Regions from separate parts of the Homo sapiens genome. Here region 2 is linked to region 1. The links come from fine-mapping of genetic effects on gene expression. Tissue or cell type: whole blood. Region 1 holds a variant in brackets; the other region holds the start of a gene. All regions are shown on one strand. Distances are from middle to middle.

What was found. PIP is the estimated chance that this variant, and not a neighbour inherited with it, causes the effect.
Region 2: it holds the start of ANTXR2, and the variant in region 1 is fine-mapped to the expression of ANTXR2 in whole blood (INTERVAL, PIP 0.95).

What each region holds. Positions count from the first base shown.
Region 1 is chr4:79,950,899-79,953,587 of GRCh38, forward strand. The region is part of intron 16 of ANTXR2 (ANTXR cell adhesion molecule 2); the gene reads right to left. Among named protein-coding and RNA genes, the nearest start is that of ANTXR2, 120 kb to the right of the region's middle. The variant C/T (reference allele first, on the strand shown) is at 1,565.
Region 2 is chr4:80,071,744-80,074,432 of GRCh38, forward strand. ANTXR2 (ANTXR cell adhesion molecule 2) reads right to left here and starts at 1,486. Exons shown (of 17, transcript NM_058172.6): 1 at 666-1,486. The coding sequence starts at 817. RefSeq lists a silencer at 776-935 and enhancers at 1,116-1,225, 1,556-1,835.

The DNA.
Region 1 (2,689 bases):
CCTAGCTCCACATAGTAATCAAGTCCTGCTAGCATCCCCCTTTCAACTCAGATTGTCCCATTCTGATGGAGTGCTACTGTCTCATGGGGGCCCTAACAAGGTGGTTCCTGCATTAGCCCAGTTGCCTTCTGCTCTTACCTTCAGTCCTTCTAAGAGTATACTGCCTGTCACCAAGATAATACTTGTAGGAAAACAAAATAAAACAAACAAAAAACCCAACTTGTTTTCATGAAGTCTTAGTACAAAATTAGAAAACAAAATTCAATAAAATATTTTTGTTTGATGGGACACAGATTTATTTAAAATTTTAAAGTTGAGAAACAGCAATAAATATTTGTTGGACATTCATAGCTAAGTGCTAGTCTAATATACTACATTCTCCAGAACTGAACAGGACTCTGCTGGGCGTGGTGGCTCATGCCTATAATCCCAGCACTTTGGGAGGCTGAGGGAAGGGGATTACTCATGGTCAGGAGTTTGAGACCAGCCTAGCCAACATGGTGAAACCCTGTCTCTACTAAAAATACAAAAATTAGCCAGGCATGGTGGCAGCTGTAATCCCAGCTACTCAGGAGGCTGAGGCAGGAGAATTGCTTGAACCTGGGAGGCGGAGGTTGCAGTGAGCCAAGATAGCGCCACTGCATTCCAGCCTGGGGGACAGAGAGAGACTCTATCTCAAAAAACAACAACAACAAAAAAAAAAAAACAACAAAAAGAACAACCAAACGGGACTTAGATTTATTCTCTATTATTTCCCCACATATAGCTCAAAAGTTGCTAAAGAAAATAATTGAATCACTGTCCCAGAACAAATGTAAATGTTCCTACTTTCTCTACCTCTACAAATCCTTCAAGATTAACTCAACTCTCTCTTCTATAAAACCTCACCTTACCTCTTGGTCTGAAGTATTCTTCCTTAATAACTCAAACAGCAATTAATGTCCAGACAATTCATTTAGAAATTAATTAGGCAACACTTTTGTGTAATCTCTTCTGTTACTTCCTTGAATTGATGTTTAAATATTTCATTATTTTACGTTGTATATGTGGATTGTTGCCCTTTTGAGTAGATTACAAACTTGTTGATAACTATGTATTAAATATTTTGGGGTTTCAAAGACTGCCTGAAAATAGTGGGTACTCAGGAAAAAATGGCTAATTTTATTTTATGCCTATCATGTCCTAATTCTAGCAAATTTTTTTAAACCACCAAAATTATTTGATGTGGAATTATAATTGTGGAGTTTTCAAATATATATAATAGGTATATATAAACTATTTGCTGTTTATATATAAATATATATCATATATATAATTCTAATTAGATTAGATTCTAATTAGAATCCATCTTGACTATACAACTGGTTTTATCTTCTGTTTTTATTTGTTAATTGCATTTTGCTTGCTCTGCTTTGGGTTATAATTTTTGAGGCTTTTCTTTATCCCCCACTACATCTAGACTGTAATAAATTCCTAGCAGGTAGGGATTATCTAGTATTCACTAGATTTTTTAAAGAAAAAAATTTTTTCTCGAGAACCTGTTGATAACTTGTAGCTCATTTTC[C/T]TTTGTCTAATCTTACTAGAAAATATTTTCACCAAAAATTTAGAAAAGTCAGAAATGTGTTTAAATGCTCATGTGTTAAATGCTCCAACATGCCAAAAAGAAAAATTATAGCACTTATAATTTAAGTTTTAATATTCATCTGTAATCTTACAGAGAATATGTTGTATTTTCATTAATACTATTAATTAATCCAAAATTTCACTTGTTTATTATTTCTAAGATTTCAGAAACAAAGCAGTAAATGTTTATAAATGATTAGAAAAACTGTTTGCTCTAAAGAGTATAAAAAGCCTTAAAATGTAGTTTACATGGGTATTTTTCTTATGCCTTCAGTTATAAAAACCATCTTATTATTATTAATAATAGTAATATTATTATTTTATACAACAGAGAGTACAAAGAATGATGCCCTAGGAATAAAGGAAACCTCCTATTTCTTATAATTTGATAAAACTTTCTTTCTCAGCAAAATATTATATAATATTAGCATGCCACAACATGAAAGTCTTTCAAGATGCCTCATCTAAACAACAAGTTCTATGACAGCTGTATCATGGGGAACCCTTGGCCCCTCCATGTGAAATAGGGAATGTAAGGACTGAGGTGTCTACCACAGGACCTAGTGTTGAAGGCAGGCAGACTGAAGAGGAGGCCGACCTCCAGATGCTCAACCCTCAGTTCCCAGTACTCACACACTAAGGATTTCTCATCAAAAAAATAGCTGGCAGCCCATTTGCCTCAGTTTTCACTAACGTACCTGAAGAGATATTAAGACTTTAAAAACCATTTCAGGATTGAATTTTTGTAAGATGATTTTGGGCACACTATTTTCAGATACATCAAAGAATAAATTTGATTAGTGAAATCAGTTGCTCCATAGATCAAAATAAGAGCTCAAGCTCTCAGAATGATCTGGGAAATAAACAGTAAATTCACAGTAAATTTAACGGAAGTCTAAAATGATGAAAGATTCTGAAAACTAGATTTTAAGAGGGAATTATAAATAATAAATTATGACTGTGCCAACAGTATCCTAAACTAAAAATGATGGCTTTTCCATAGTAAATCTGAGAGCTTTGATAATTGAAATATATAATTTGGGATTGTGTCATAATCTTAGCCTCC
Region 2 (2,689 bases), 120 kb after region 1:
CATAGGGGCACCTGGCCTCTTTTTCAAGCTAAGTAAGGGTATCTGTAGCTGAAACTTTGGTGGTACCCAGAGTTAAAGAAGTCAGTCCCAGAGCAAGACTCCGTCAAAAAAAAAAAGAAGAAGAAGAAGTCAGCCCGTTTTCTGGGGTGGGTAAATACCTGCCTAATTGTTTAGAGTGGAACCCAGCTCTTCAGAGTAAACACAAAAGCCTTTCTTCGCAGGAAATGCAAACCACATTGGGCATGTTAACCCTAGGCTTTTCCTGGCTCCAATGAAAGCGCTATGATTAGGATAAAACCAGGCAAACTTTAGCCTGCGTACGAGCAGGGTCGAGGAGGTGGGTAAGGACTCTGTGGCCGATGGAGCGTGGCCCGCAAGAGGCCACACTCCCATTTCCCAAGAGGCCAAAAGACTGGCAAACAGTGAATACCCCAACTCCCCAAAGAGCCAAGTAGCCCGGGGCTCCAATCACTACCCCCGACCCGGCTGATCTCCGCCCACACAGATCCGAACGCGCTTGCCCTTTGAAAGAAGACAGCAACAGGGCACCCCTCCGCGGGTTTCCAACACCACTCCCCGGGGTGCGCACACGCATCTCAGCCTCAGCCCCAGCTGATCCAGTGCCGCCCTCACCAGGAGACCCTGGACCTCCCTCGCACACTCACTTGTCCAGGACGAAGTAGAGATCAAAGGCTCTTCTGCAGGAGGGCTGCTCCTGGGCGCGCAGCAGCCCCCCGGGACCGCTGAGCACCAACAGCCACAGCCCGGGGAACAGCCAGCTCCCGGGGCTGCGGGCCGGGGACCGCTCCGCCACCATCCTGCGGCCGGGGGCCTGAGACTCCCTCCCGCTCGCAGTCCCCTAAGCTCAGGAGGGTCGCAAAGGTGGCGGGAGTCACCCGGCACGCACTCTGGGGTGGGGGGCGGCGAGCAGCTGAGACGCCGGCGCCTGCGGCAGCGGGACCCACCAGCTGACAGGGAGGGAGAGAGGGAGGTCCTGAGAGGACAAAGGGAGTCTCCGCCACCGCCGCAGCTGCCGCCGGAACTCTTGACGAATCCCAGTGGAAGCGCGATCCAGTCCTCCCCCTCCCGATTCCGGAGAGTTCCTGCAGACAATGCGGGCCCACGGCGACAGCTCGCGAAAGGAGTTCCTCTCCGGCCTGGGGCCGAGCCTCCAGCGCCCGCCTCGGACCCGGACCTGGAACCCACCCCGCCTGGAGGGCTGAAGTCCCCCCCGCTGCCGTGCGCTTCGGGACAAGGGGTCCCTGGGACGCGGCGACGGCAGAACAAACTAGGAGTGGAGACTCTTCTCCTCCGGCGGCCCCAACTCCCTCCGCACTCCGAAACTTTCCTCCCGGTGCTGGACTCTGGCACTGCGCTGACAGGCCGTCCCCTTTAGGGGAGGAGGCTAGCTGGCCCTGGGACTCCCGGCTGGAGAGAAGCCACGCCGAGGGCAGGAGCCCGCTCGGGCCGGGTCTGGGCTGCGTGTGTCAGTGTGCGCCTGGGGACGAGGGCGGGGCCCCAGCTGAAGCCTCCGAGCCACACATGCACACTTGTGGGTTCCTGCCGAGTTGAAGATGACTAACGCTTGCCAGATTTGGGAAAGGGAAGAAGGAGTTTAGAAAAACAAAAGTTATCTAGAAACTAAACATACCCGTATGTCCTGCAGGCCTGGCCTATTTTAGCAGCTGTGCTAAAACAGCCCCCATGCGTGGTTCACAAACCCAAGACTAAGGATTCCATGGGAGGTGACGGCCTCCTCACTCCTCACTCCACCCCACCCCTACTACCACAAACACTCTTTATGAACTTCCTCTTTTTCTTCTAAAGAAACCTGCTTAGTTTTTTTTTTTTTTTTCTTTAAAAAAAGCCAAGCCAAGGAAAGGCCGGAGTGGGGAGTGGGAGGGGATAGCAGGCCTCTTTGGGAGTGGAAAGTTGTACCTCAAAATATTTCAGCCCACTGTCATTTCCCTGCAAGCTCCAGTTTTGGAGAATTTCAGCTTTGGGCAAGCTAGGTCTCCTTTGCAAAACTTGTGCAAGCACTCAAGTTTGTGCACAAATCCTCTGTCTACTAGTTCTGCTCTCCCTCCTCTCTCTTCCCCCCACCTCCGTGACTTCCGCCCTCCCTTAGTCAAAACTGGCTTTTAGAACCTAAATACCTTTTCATTTTTAACAAAATCAATGCTTTATGTAGTACTTACATATACATCTCTTCTGTTTGTTGCCATATGTATTTAACTTTTCATTTATTATATTTGATATACAACCAGATATGTCAGCTCTTTGAAGATAAAAATTAGTTACTTTAACAAAGATTCATTGAGTGCCTATTATTTGCTAGGCACTGTTCCAGAAGTGGAGGTTAGTGCACAGAACAAGATAACAAGCCCTTGCTTTCATGAAGCTGACAGTCTGGCTGAAGAGTGAAAACAGACAATAAGAAATAAATACATAAGCAAGGAAAAAAAATGTCCATATTGGAAAGGTGGCCTGTAGAAATTTAAAATATTGTGATGATAAAGAATGACAGACTCAGTGACTAACAAAAAAGACCCAGTCATTCCAAGAGCTCTAAGGGGAAACATTTGGAGTTACTGCAAAGGTCCATAGACATTAGCTTAGCATATTCAAAAAAGAAAAAAAAAAAACTGTGTAGCTGGAGCTTTGCAGGTAAGATGATGTAAGACAAATA